Regions from separate parts of the Homo sapiens genome. Here all the other regions are linked to region 1. Evidence: fine-mapped expression QTL. A gene starts in region 1. Each other region holds a variant in brackets. All regions are shown on one strand. Distances are between the middles of the regions.

Region 1 (4,245 bases):
TAAAAAAATGGACTCTTTCATTGCAAACCAATGGGAAGTTCTTAACTCATTTCCTTAGATCACTTGAAATGAAAGTGCTTTCTGTCTTTAGGGAAAATAATTGCTGGATGTGATGCCTTTTGCCTGCTCTTGAGTCCCACAATCAATACTGTGAAGGAAAGAAAAAATTAACCCTTAGATACTTTTAGGAAGAGTGAGGTTATTTTTAAATTCAATGATGGTAGAGTTCTAAAAAGGGAGAAGGAAAGTCCTCCCTTCCAAGGAGAATGCAGTTGCCTTCCTCTAAACAAATTGGCTCTGTTATCTTTTTAATCCTCTTTCCAGGAGGAGGCCTGAGAAGGAGATGGAAACCATATGTTTAAAAAGTTTTTAAAAATGTATAGATGCTCCTGAATATTTGTAAATAACTGCAGTGAAAAATGTTTACATTAGAACTCACCTGCCCTTGCACTGATTAGAAAGATCCTCTACAGAGCAGAGGAGATCATTTCCAACCACCCAGACCACTACAATCACAGGAAGAAGCCAACAGCAGCATCTTCAGCCCCAGAGACTAAAGGTGAAAGGGGCACCTCGCAGTGGTGGAAGCACCCGTGTGTTCCCTCAACATGCCTGGGGAGGTGGAGAGGAAGGGGAAGCAGCTCTGCCTTCCCTCCAATCTAACTACACAACCCCTGCTGCCGTAACTTATTTTTAGACATTTAATCTAAAATTCCCAGAAAGGAAGCGGATCTACAACCTCTGAGTGATCCTCAGAGTTCTGATTTCCAACCTGGCTTGGGCATTTTGTTTGTTTTCTGACTTCAGGTGCCTACTTAAAGTACATCTCCCATCTTCCAGAGGCATCCACAGCCTAAGCCAATAAAAAGAGCTGGGAGCTTTGGAGCTTTAAGTGATGAAAAATCCAGCACCCACAGGTCAAAAGTAATGACCTTGGGGAAGTTACTCATCCTTCTAAAGAATCAATTTGTGGTCAACAAGATGAGATAATAATACTAGACAGCTGTTCGAGATTTCAACACAAAAATTGCACAGTATCGTCTCTTAGTAGACGTCAGTCAGTACTATGCACTTGCTGTGGGCACACTGCGCAAAGCTGCGGGATCCGTCCATGTTTCCACTGCCCATCACTCCGACGTTGGGGACTTATGTTACCGACTGTGCACTCCACCTCGGGGAGATGCCTTTTACCTGCTTCTTGTTCCCTACAGCTTCAAATGTCTGCAGAGCCCAAGAGGTAAATTCTTATTAAGTGCAAGAGACTAAGTTATCCTGGGTTCTCCTTCCCTCTGTTTTGTTTATCCGTAAATTGTTAAATAAAACTCCGCTTTGGGAAGAAATGCGTCGAGTCTTTACATGCGCAAAGCAGGTGTCTGCACATCTCTGGGGATCAGGGGTGGGGAAGGAACCCTGACTAAAGTCTCCAGGTTGGGAATGGCACAAATGGAGGGAAAGGACATGGAAGAGCGGATGAAAGGGATGCCTCTGCGAGACGGTGCAAGGCGGTCCTCGCCGGTGACCCTGTCCTCTGCACTCGGGGAGGAAAGGACGCTAGAGGGGAGGAGCCGCGAGGGCAGGAGTACCTGAACGCTCTGGCCGCGGTCTGGTTCCTCCTCCACGCCGTGCCCTGTTGCAGCACCCCCTGCACGATCTCTTTCTCGTTGGGCAGCCGGTAGACGGGGAAGATGTAGAGCCAACAGAGGACCACGACACAGAGGGCACTGGCTCCCATGGGCAGCCGGGTCCGCGGGAACTTCCACGCCAGTACAGCCATGGCCCCTCTGGACGTTTGTCGCCGGGCCCGCCCGCAGGGGCTCATCGCAGCCCCGGCGTCCCAGGGGCGGGGGCCGGGGCCTCAGCACAAAGCTAGGCGAAGTGGCAGCGGAGGGTCCCCCACCGCCAGCCCCCCATGCACACACACCTTTGGTTCTCTTACTTGCAAACGCACGCACGCTTCTTCGGCCCCGTCGGCCCCAAAGGTCAGCGCAAGGATTTTTTCAAATGCAACTTTTCCAAGGATTTCTTTCTAGGGGAAGTGGCTGGGGGTGAAGTCACGATCTATGGCCATGGTCGCTTCCCCTGCAGAAGGCGGGCGCTGGGGTCTCCGAGTGCGCAGAGAGCGGCGGCGGCGAGTCGCTCCCGCCGGTTCTGCAGCATCACGGTCGCCCTCGGCGAGGGTCCGGGAGAAGGCTCGGCTCCCTCCTAAACATGTGGCCCGTGGCGTCCCCTTGTCCCCTCCGAGCGATGCTCCTGCGCCCTTCGCCGCCTCCCGCGCTGCTGCGCCGCCAGGCAACCCCCCCCCCCCCACCCCGCCCCGAGACGCGCTCTCTGCGCCGCACCAAGTCCTTGGAAATTTCCACGGCGGCCCGGGACCGCTATCCTGCCCCGGGCTCCTCCGCCTCGCCCGCCGGGACCCTCGCTCCCCACCCCTCCCGGAGAAGAAAAGAACTCGCTCTCATCAGTTAATTCAGCGGCGCGCCGCAGCCTTCCGCTGCGCCCCGGACTTCGCAGACAAACGCCCGGGGATTGGTGGAAATCAAGGTCTCCCCCTCCCTCCCCCACCCGCAAAATTGCCTCCTTCGACCCGATCCGAGCCGCGACACTCGCCCAGAGCGCGCACCCCTCACTCGTGCCCTTGTTCTTTGGAGATAACGGCAGACAATAAAAACCAACAGCCCCCCGCCAATAGAAATATATCAGTCCCTGAGTGTGGCGGAGACTGGCTAATATCCTGATCCTTCGACAAGCGGCCGGTGTGCCCAGGCTGTCACCCTGCTGCCGTCACCCTAGTCTTTCTCTAGCTGGTTGGATATTAACCCGCAGCCAGGCGCGAGGAGGCTGGCGGAGATTTATTCCTTCCTGGGCCCCCACCCCCATTAGCCGGTCCCGGAGCCGCGGCCCGTGTGTGTGCGCGCGCGCCCGCACACACACACACACACACACACACACACACACACACACACACGTTCACGGGCGCAAGCGAGCGCGCGCACGAGGAGGTGCGTGCACTCCGGGGTCCTCCGCCTCGCCTCCTCCCTGAAAGGAAGTGCTGCATCCAGATGTGCAGGCAGCTGGTGCCCAAACACTAGACCTCAAGATGTCACATTGCCTTGGAGGCGCGCGGCCTTTTAGATTAAAGGACCGTTGGTTCTTAGACGTCCTTCTTGCCCTTCTTGCTTGTGATAAGCGATAAGCTTATCGCAACCCCGACCTTGGAAAAGCACCACCCGCCTTGACCCACCGAGCCGAGAGAGTCGCTGTTAGCCATTTCTGCTCGCCCCGGCGGCCGACGCATAGCTCGGGTACCTCCTAGCGGTCGCCTATTCTATTTGCTTAAGCATCTCGTCAAGCATAAAGTGTGCAAGGACAAAGAAGAAACCTGGTCAGCTTAGTCATCACGAAAACAAAATCTAAGGCTATAACTCCATTTGTTCAGCCGACCAGGCTGCGGTGTCTGGTACCTTTGTCTAGCATCCGTCTCCACTGAGAGGTGGAACTTGAGAAGTTGATGCAAAGTTATTTACCAAAAGCGAAGTAGCATCCCAGATGACCACTTTAGTGTCATTTTCTCAACAATACTGTGCTCTTAGTTGAGTGACCTACTGCCCTCCACCGGCAGGCATGCCCCAGAAATCTCTGTCCTACTTAGGTAAATCAGTAGAGACAGGGGAAACCTTGAAATCCCAGTCACATCTTACCACAGTGGAGGCTGATACAGATTCTTTAAAATGAAGATCATCTTAAGTCCTGCAAAGTAACCAGCCAACTCTCTTCTATCCTGGAAAAGGGGAAGGGAAGGGGGAGCTTTTCCTACTTGCCTGGGCTTTGGATAAATCATCTGCCATCTTTGATCTTATAATTTAAGTAAAACACAAACCATTCCCATTTTTCTTCCTCAAGTTCAAGGACTATTTGTAGAGTAAATAACAAAGAAATAAACTGACAAACAAAACTAGGGCATATTACAGTTATGAAGGGGCTATGTAAATGTTTCCCTATATAATATCATAAGAATGCATTAAAGTCATGCTTTACATCAAAAGATCTGTGTGACACAATGTGCTGTTTTTCTTTCTTCTGCAAACTAAGAATTCTCTTACCTTGGTGGGCTTCTGCCCACCCAACAATCCAAACTTATTCCCTGCTTTTTCTTAACATGAGCACCAAATCTAATCAGGTCATCGCTCTCACCCTTCCAAGTCACACTACATTGGTCCGTTCTCACATTACTATAAAGAATACCAC
Region 2 (4,245 bases), 83 kb before region 1:
TTAAATCATCAGTTAGAATAATACAAATAGAAATGTTATTAATTCTAGCTGAATTCACGAGTAACTGTTTTGTTTTTTGTTTTTTTTTTTTTTTTGAGATGGAGTCTCGCTCTGTTGCCCAGGCTGGAGTACAGTGGTGTGATCTCCGCTCACTGCAAGCTCCACCTGCCGGGTTCACGCCATTCTCCTGCCTCAGCCTCCCGAGTAGCTGGGACTACAGGCACCTGCCACCACACCCGGCTAATTTTTTTTGTATTTTTAGTAGAGACGGAGTTTCACCGTGTTATCCAGGACGGTCTCGATCTCCTGACCTTGTGATCTGCCCGCCTTGGCCTCCCAAAGTACTGGGATTACAGGCGTGAGCCACTGCACCCAGCCAGTAACTGTTTTTTGTTTTGTTTTGTTTTGTTTTGTTTTTTACCACCTCTCCCTTTTAATAGACATTGGATGAATAATTAACTATCAGCATCTTCCAAATGCTGTCATAAAAACTACTCCTGTTTAGTAAGAAAGATAATGTCAGCCAAAGGGGCAAATTATCTACAAAAAGAAAGAGACAGTAACTAGGAGGTATTTATTCCATTCAAAATATTTTTGAGAGGGTAGGACAGACATTCTTAGACCTGAATTAAAGCTCAGGACAGTGTGATACACTAGAGGACATGGGACCTACAGTACCTCTGCACACCCATAAATCTCAAAAGACAAGGAGGAATTAATATATTTTCTTGTGTTTTTCTTTTTCCAAAATCAAAATTATAAGAGTGCATTCAGGGCCATGTACTATTCACTTAAATCACAGCATGTCTGACTTGTGTGTGTGTGGCCAATGGGTAGGCTGATTACTGGTGAAGGTATAATGGCTCATCATCCAAAGAAATGCAGTGATCCACCATCCCAGTTCAGCCAAAGGAAAGAGTACAGGTGATGTTTCCCTGGTGATGGGAACAGCCACCCCACTCCCACTCCCAAAACCCCACCCTGCCCCAGTTGCTCTCCTTGGCCACCATGTCTTATGAATGCTTACAATGGGAAATATGACCACTGCGAATTCAAATCCCATGGCTTTCTGCCTGTGGAACATTAGGCAAGTTAATTCATTTGCCTGACTTCAGTTTCTCCATTATACAAAATGAGGATAATGATTTTTCCTCTTTTCTTGAATTGTTGTTAAGGACTAAAAAAGGTATGTAATATAAAAATTCCCCAACCTTGATGTGTACACTTAGTAAATATTCAAAAATATCACAGGTCAGAAATAGCATACAAAAATAATTAAATATGTATTTATTATCTATGAAAATGCCAAATGCGCCTATAGTTTCCATTATGCTTTCTTTTATTACTGAGTCCTCATTTCTCCTCTTCAACCATATGTCTAACTTGATTCCTACCACATTAGGGCATCTGTAACTTTTTATTACTTCAGTAAACCAAAGCATCATTTACTTGTAGGTAAAGATATCTTACAAATATTGCAGTCTCTGCTAGTTCCCCAACTACTAAATTTTCCCTACAAATTACCCTCAGTATCCAGGCACCCACTCAGCTGATCAGCTCAAGTTCTCTGATTTTGTCTCTTATTTACCCTGTGAGTATCAACACATCAAGGCATCCTAGGCAGAAACTTGTCTCAGTTGATTTAGAATCTTCTTTTTATCTGCTCTTCGGTGATAAGATACTGGTTTTTCTGGTAGCTACCAACAGGTCAGTTAACCAGTCAGTGGCTTTTGCTGAATGCCCACTGAAAGCAAACACAGTGGGCATTATGGGGGCCTTGGGGGTGGAGCCCAAGTCAGAGAACCTACTCTTGAAGTATCCACAGTCAAGTGGTTGCCCCATATCCCATGTGGTTTCCTGAGGATTCTCATGAGGGAGTGAGTTTATGCATTAACAGCCAGGCTCATCCGGCTGTGGTAACTGATTGTGGTCTTGTGATTTAATTGATCTTTGCAAAGAGGAAGATGACTTCCAGGATAAAACACAGACTAAAATTTGGATACTTATCTCTTAAAGAAGCTTTGATCTTAATTGCCCTTGGAAGCAGGTGAGAATCAGCTATGTTACGCTAAAACTGTAAATTCTGAGTATTGCTGGAGAGTACTGTCAACATGTTTTGTCATTATTAAACAAACTGGTTTTCATGAGTAAATACTTTGTTTTCCTGTGTGTTCCATGGCTCATGTGTCTGGGTCTTTTCATATTTACTGCCACAGAGTAATAGCCCAATAAAAACTTGCAGGTATTTATTATCTTCTAGAACAGAGGTGAATGCTTAAAACCATGAAGATAACATTTTATATGAATTTTGATGTATTTCCAGAAAATAATGACAATACATTTTGGTGTAAGTTCTTCTGGGTAAACTTTTTCTCTAAGTGCAAATATCTGTGACACTTTCCTGTATCTCTTCTCTCAGGAAAAGCACACCAATAATTTTAGTTCCTCAACTCATAAATTGATAATTACAAAGATGTACACAAAAGGCACATTTAATACAGTCAAATTGTTTTAATAAGGCATAATTGTGGTGTAAAATGTTTCAAAGTTTGCATTAT[C/T]GCTGTTGGCACAATTAACAAATATTAATGACTAAAGTGTCTTAGCAACTGTGCTCATGATCCTAAAAGAGATCTGATCAGAGAATTAATGAGAAGTGAATATTCTTTGAATTGGGATGTGGAAGTAAGTGGGAAATGGGCTTGAGAGAAAGAAATCTTAAAGCAGAAAAATCATGAAATTACTTTAATTTTTTTGTATATGTGAGCAGGCAAAACATACATTTGAGCATAATTCAAAAGGCACCAAAATTATGTTCCCTCATTCATGTCCCCAAGCCAACCAGTTCCTTTTGAGGATGCAATCCCTGTTAACTTTTGTCTGGCAAATCTTCCCAATAAATTGAATTCAATGATATTATTTTTTAAAGTACTGCTTTTGGCTACAGAGCAAATGTTTACTTTGAGAAATGGGAAATTGATTTTCAGCACTAGAAGATGTGTTTGAAAACATTTAAGCAAAGAAAATTATGAAATTATTATATCCTAGTCCTAGAAGACACTTTGAACTGTAATCTGGTATATCACTGTGTACAGGCAGTGCTATTTTTGGATGTTCTCTCTCACTGTATCTGTCCATTACACACCCTACAGTCTAGGACCAGACATACGACATGCTTTCTAATCTACGTTTATTCATTAAATGTTTAATTTTGAATATATAATATCTCGATACATTAAGCATGCCCCAAAATGCATATTAAGCAATGATTTATTAATAGATCTGCAAATGGTCAAATAATTTTGAAATAATTTATCAACTTTTATTACTCCTATAATTTAAAACATACATAAGGCTTTTAAACATTAAAATGTGTCATAAAACAGAACTATTCTTGAAATTAAATCAAAGGCATACGCATACATAGTTCTAGTTATGGTGCTACCTTCTTTGAGTTCTTTCAACCCTCATCTCCCCATATTTTAGAAACATTATGCTTAATACTGTGCCAGGCACTCTAATCAGAAGCGTTCATTAATTCTGAACTTGACTATATCAACACCAGATTGCATATAAGGCTAAAAAAGTCTTGTTTACTTGTGATAAATATGGCCCACTGGAAACAATAGATAACATTCTATGGTGCCTAAGCCTAGTCTTCTACACATTAGTAAACGTCCATCTTCACAAATGGATGACACACACACATACACACTCATGAATACAAAAATACACTTATTGTACTGCACGAAGTGTATTTACATTTCTACGTGTATCAAGGCCACTTGAAATCACTTCTTTGAATCTGTGAGTTGAATACTACGTATTCCTTCTTCCTTACATAATTTTTGGGAAGAGCACAAAAACTAATAATACTCAAGAGCAATTTGAAAATTTAAACTAAACTACATAAACGGTGTTACAATGATACGGTATTCATACAGTCATAGATAGAGTAAGAGTTGCCACAATGGGAAGGGCCTGAGGAATTGCCTACTCCCGCTTCCTCCTACAAATTAGAAAGCTGGGCCCCAGCAAGGGTAAAATAATGCACTGTAGGTCACAGACCTAGTCAACAACAGCAAGGACTTGTCTCCTATCTCGCTGTGTTCTTTGCTGGCTCTTCAGCCTCACCTAATGCCAAAGTACTGGAGAGGGTGCCTGAAGGTGGTTCAGGACTCCCTGCTCTTCTCACCTATTCATGCTCTCTAGGTGATTTTCTCCACTCCAATGCCTTCAATACCTCTC
Region 3 (4,245 bases), 240 kb after region 1:
AATAAACCTAAACTGACCTATGCAGTATGGCAAACAGAAAGAGTCCACAGCCCACGTAGGCCATATGTTGAAAGAAAATAACTGCCTTGTTCAACTACACATGTGTAAGCATAATATAAAAAACTGTAGTATACAACAATTATATGTTATTCAATGTATCTTAACAGTAGCCTATGCTACCTTGATGTCAGCTGCAATCAAATATCTCAGGATGGAATTATGTATCTAGCTCATGTAAAAGCAATATTACCCTAGAAGCAGTAGATTTTTCTTTTAACAGAATAGAAAATGCAGGAGCTAAGTATCTCCAAGAAATTCTTACTTTACACAATGGGCATTTTAAAGCATTGTCAGTAGTCAGCAACAACATAGAGAAGGACTTGCACTTTCACAATCAATGAAAACGAATCCCACATTTTCTAATATCTACATTTGGAGAAACAAATTTAGCCTGGGCAACATAGCAAGACCCCATCTCTACAAAAAGATTGCAAAAATTAGCTGGCCATGGTAGTGTGTGCCTGTAGTCCTACTTGGGTGGCTGAGGTGGTAGGATCACCTGAGCCCAGGGAGGTCAAGGCTGGAAGTGAGCTGCGATGGTGCCACTGCACTCCAGACTGAGCAACGTGAGACCCTGTCTCAAAAACAAAACAAAACAAAAACAAATTTGATGAGGCTACAGGTGTATCATGTTCAGACATAATTCAAATAGGCCATCTAAAAACAGACAATAGGCCAGGTGAACTGGTTCATGCCTGTAATCCCAGCACTTTGGGAGGCCGAGACAGGCAGATCACTTGAGGCCAGGAGTTCGAGACCAGCCTGGCCAATATGGGGAAACTCTGTCTCTACTGAAAATACAAAAATTAGCTGGTCATGGTGGCACACACCTGTAGTCCCACCTACTCGGGAGGCTGAGGCACAAGAATTGCTTGAACCCAGGAGGCGGAGGTTGAAGTGAGCTGAGATCACACCACTATACTCCACCTGGGCGACAGAGTGAGACTCTGTCTCACAAATAAATAAATAAATAAACAAAAGCAGATAACCCAGATGTGGAGTTATTTGTGGTGGATGGATGCTCACAGAAGTCTCCAATGACCTTAAAAAACATTATTATTGAACTCCAACTTATGGAGAAGTTTAGAGTCTCTCATCTAATGCAGATTTTGCTCCTGTTCCAGTAAGTCAACACCTAGGAAAAAGAAGATATAAAATCATTTTTTTTTTTTTGAGATGGAGTCTCGCTCTGTTGCCCAGGCTGGAGTACAGTGGCACAATCTTGACTCACTGAAACCTCTGCCTCCAGGGTTCAAGCGATTCTCCTCCCTTGGTCTCTTGAGTAGCTGGGATTACAGGCACGTGCCACCACACTCAGCTAAATAAAATCATTTTTATACATTTGTCTTATTGCTTTCACAGAGATTTTTATAGCTTATTAAATTTTTCTTTCATAAATTAAAACAAGTTACTTTTATCAAATGTATAAAAGGTAATCACTATATTAAAGTTTGTATAACTGTCCATTGTGGGAAAAAGAAAGCTTTCAGCACTGAAACATAATTTTTGCAAAAATTATTCATCCAAACACAGACGCTGGTGAGTCACAGAATCATGGTAAAGACAATGATCCTAATGAATTAAGAAATCTGTGGAGCAAAGTGTACTTAGAATTGGTTTTGGTGCACAGAGTTATGAATTTTGTGCAGACACATACTTCATAAAAAGAGCTAAAGATGCAAATAAGCACATGAAAAGATATTCAATATCATTAATCACTAGAGAAGTACAAATGAAAACCACAGTGAGATAACACTATACAATCTGTACTAGTCTGCTTGGCTATCACAACAGAATATCACAGAATGGACTGCAACAGGAATTTATTTTCTCACATTTCTGGAGGCTGGAAGTCCAAAATTAAGAACCAGTATGTTGGTTTCTAGGGAGGCCTCTTTTCCTGGCTTACAGGTGGTGCCTTCTTGCTGTGGCCTCACGTGGCCTTTCCTCTGTGCACGTGAATTCCTGGTGTTTCTTCCTCTTATAAAGATGCCAGTTCTGTTGGATTACAGCCCCACCCATGTGATGTCATTTAACCTAAATTACCTCCTGAAAGGCCCTATCTCTAAATACAGTCACATTGAGGGTTAAGATTTCAGCATATGTATTTTGAGGAGGACACAATTGAGTTCATAACAACACCTAAAATTAAAAAAAACAAAACAAAAAAATGAAAATATAAAATGCTGGCTAAAATACAGAGCAACTAGAACTCCCATACATTGCTAATGGAGATCCAAATA[A/G]TACAACCATTTTGGAAAACAGTTTGGCAGTTTCTTATAAAGCTAAATATACCATTAACCCAGCAATCCCAGTCCTATGTGATTACCCAAAATAAATGAAAACTTATATTCATACAAAGATTTCTGCATGAATATTTATAGCACCTTTATTTATAGTAGGCCCAAATTGGAAATAACCAAAATGTTCTTTGGCTTGTGAATGAAAAAAAAAAAAAATATATATATATATATATATGCTACATCCACACAATGGCATACTGCTTAATAAAAAGAAACAAATTTGTTTGTCCATTCACCTATTGATAGACATTTGGGTTGGATTCAGTTTGGGGCTATTATAAATAAAGTTGCTATAAATACTCAGATTTAAATTCTTACGTGGATATGTGTTTCCATTTCCTTTGGATAAACCTAGGAGTGGAATTGCTGGGTTGAACTATATGTTTAACTTTATAAGAAATTGTTAAACTATTTTCCAAAATTCCCATACCATTTGCATTCTCATCAGCAATCCATGAGTCCTAGTAGATTCACGTTCTCCCCAACATTTGATGTTATCAGTCTTTTTAATATTAGCCACTCTAATGGATGGGCAGTGGTATCTTATTGTGATTTAAATTTGCATTTCCATGATGACTTAAGATAATGGACTTTTTTTGTTTTCTTTTTTTGCTATTCATATATTTTCTTTTGTAAAGTGTCCTTTCAGATCTTTTGCTCAGGTTTTTTTTTTTCTTAAAGCTGGAGTCTTACTATATTGCCCAGGCTGGAGTGCAGTAGTTATTCACAGGTGTGAGGATAGTGCACTACAGCCTCAGACTCCTAGCCTTAAGCAATCCCCCAACCTCAGCCTGCTGAGCAGCTGGGACTACAGGCATGTGCTGCCATGCCTGGCTTTTTGCTCAGTTTTAAGAACTGGTTTCTTTGTCTTTGTGAATTGTAAGAGTTTTGTATATAAGCTCTTTATCAGTATATACATGTACGACAAATATTTTCTCTGTGACTCACCTTTCATTTTCATGGTTGTATTTTTCAGAGCAAGAGTTCTCATTTTGATAAAGTCCTATGTATTCATTTATTTCTTTTATAGCACATGCTTTTTATGTTCTATCTAAGAAATCTTTACCTATGTCAAGGTCACAAATTTTTATAACTTTTAACATTTACATTTAGTTCTGTGACCCATTTCAAGTTAAGTTTTGTGAAATGAAGATTAAGGATTAAGCTTCATTTTTTTTCCCTCTTGTCTTAATCTGTTTTGTGTTCCTGTGAAGAAATACCTGAGACTGGGAAATTTATAAAGAAAAGAGGTTTATTTTGCTTATGGTTCTACAGGCTGTACAAGAAACATGGCACCAACATCTGCATCTGGTGTGGACCTCAGGCTACTTCCATTCATGGCGGAAGGTGAAAGGGAGCTGGTGTTGCGGAGATCACATAGAAAGAGAGGAGGAAAGAGAGAGAGGGATAAGGTACCAGGCTCTCTTTAAGAACCAGCTTTCTTAGGAATTAATAGAGTGAGAACTCACTTACCCCCAAGGAAGAGCACTAATCTATTCATGAGGGATCTGCCCCATGACTCAAGTACTTCCCATTAGGCCACCTCCAACCTTGGGGATCAAATTTCAACATGAGATTTGCTGGGGACAAACAACCCATATCCAAACTATAGAACTTCTGAATAACCAGTTCTTCCAGTATCATTTGTTGAAAAAGATTATTCCTTTCACATTGAAATACCTTGGTATCTTTGTCGAAAATCAATTGGCCATGTATGTGTATAGTTCTATTTCTGCCTTTTATTCTGCTTACATCTATATTCCATATATAAAAATATATAAGTTATATAAATATATGGAATATATATAGAATATATGTATATATATGCATACCATATATGGAGTATATATAGAATATATATGTGTATATTCTATATATATGT

What was found. PIP is the estimated chance that this variant, and not a neighbour inherited with it, causes the effect. A credible set is the group of variants that fine-mapping cannot tell apart.
Region 2: its variant is the best candidate, but not a certain one, in a credible set for the expression of ST8SIA1 in blood mononuclear cells (TOPMed, PIP 0.61).
Region 3: its variant is the best candidate, but not a certain one, in a credible set for the expression of ST8SIA1 in sun-exposed skin (GTEx, PIP 0.60).

What each region holds. Positions count from the first base shown.
Region 1 is chr12:22,332,414-22,336,658 of GRCh38, forward strand. ST8SIA1 (ST8 alpha-N-acetyl-neuraminide alpha-2,8-sialyltransferase 1) reads right to left here and starts at 2,294. Exons shown (of 5, transcript NM_003034.4): 1 at 1,584-2,294. The coding sequence starts at 1,819. It overlaps LOC105369151 (a long non-coding RNA gene), which reads right to left and starts at 1,577. Exons shown (of 2, transcript XR_931426.3): 1 at 440-1,577.
Region 2 is chr12:22,249,142-22,253,386 of GRCh38, forward strand. The region is part of intron 3 of ST8SIA1 (ST8 alpha-N-acetyl-neuraminide alpha-2,8-sialyltransferase 1); the gene reads right to left. Among named protein-coding and RNA genes, the nearest start is that of ST8SIA1, 83 kb to the right of the region's middle. The variant C/T (reference allele first, on the strand shown) is at 2,559.
Region 3 is chr12:22,574,658-22,578,902 of GRCh38, forward strand. C2CD5-AS1 (C2CD5 antisense RNA 1) reads left to right here and starts at 3,620. Exons shown (of 3, transcript XR_001749044.2): 1 at 3,620-3,775. It also overlaps the pseudogene LRRC34P1. The variant A/G (reference allele first, on the strand shown) is at 2,304.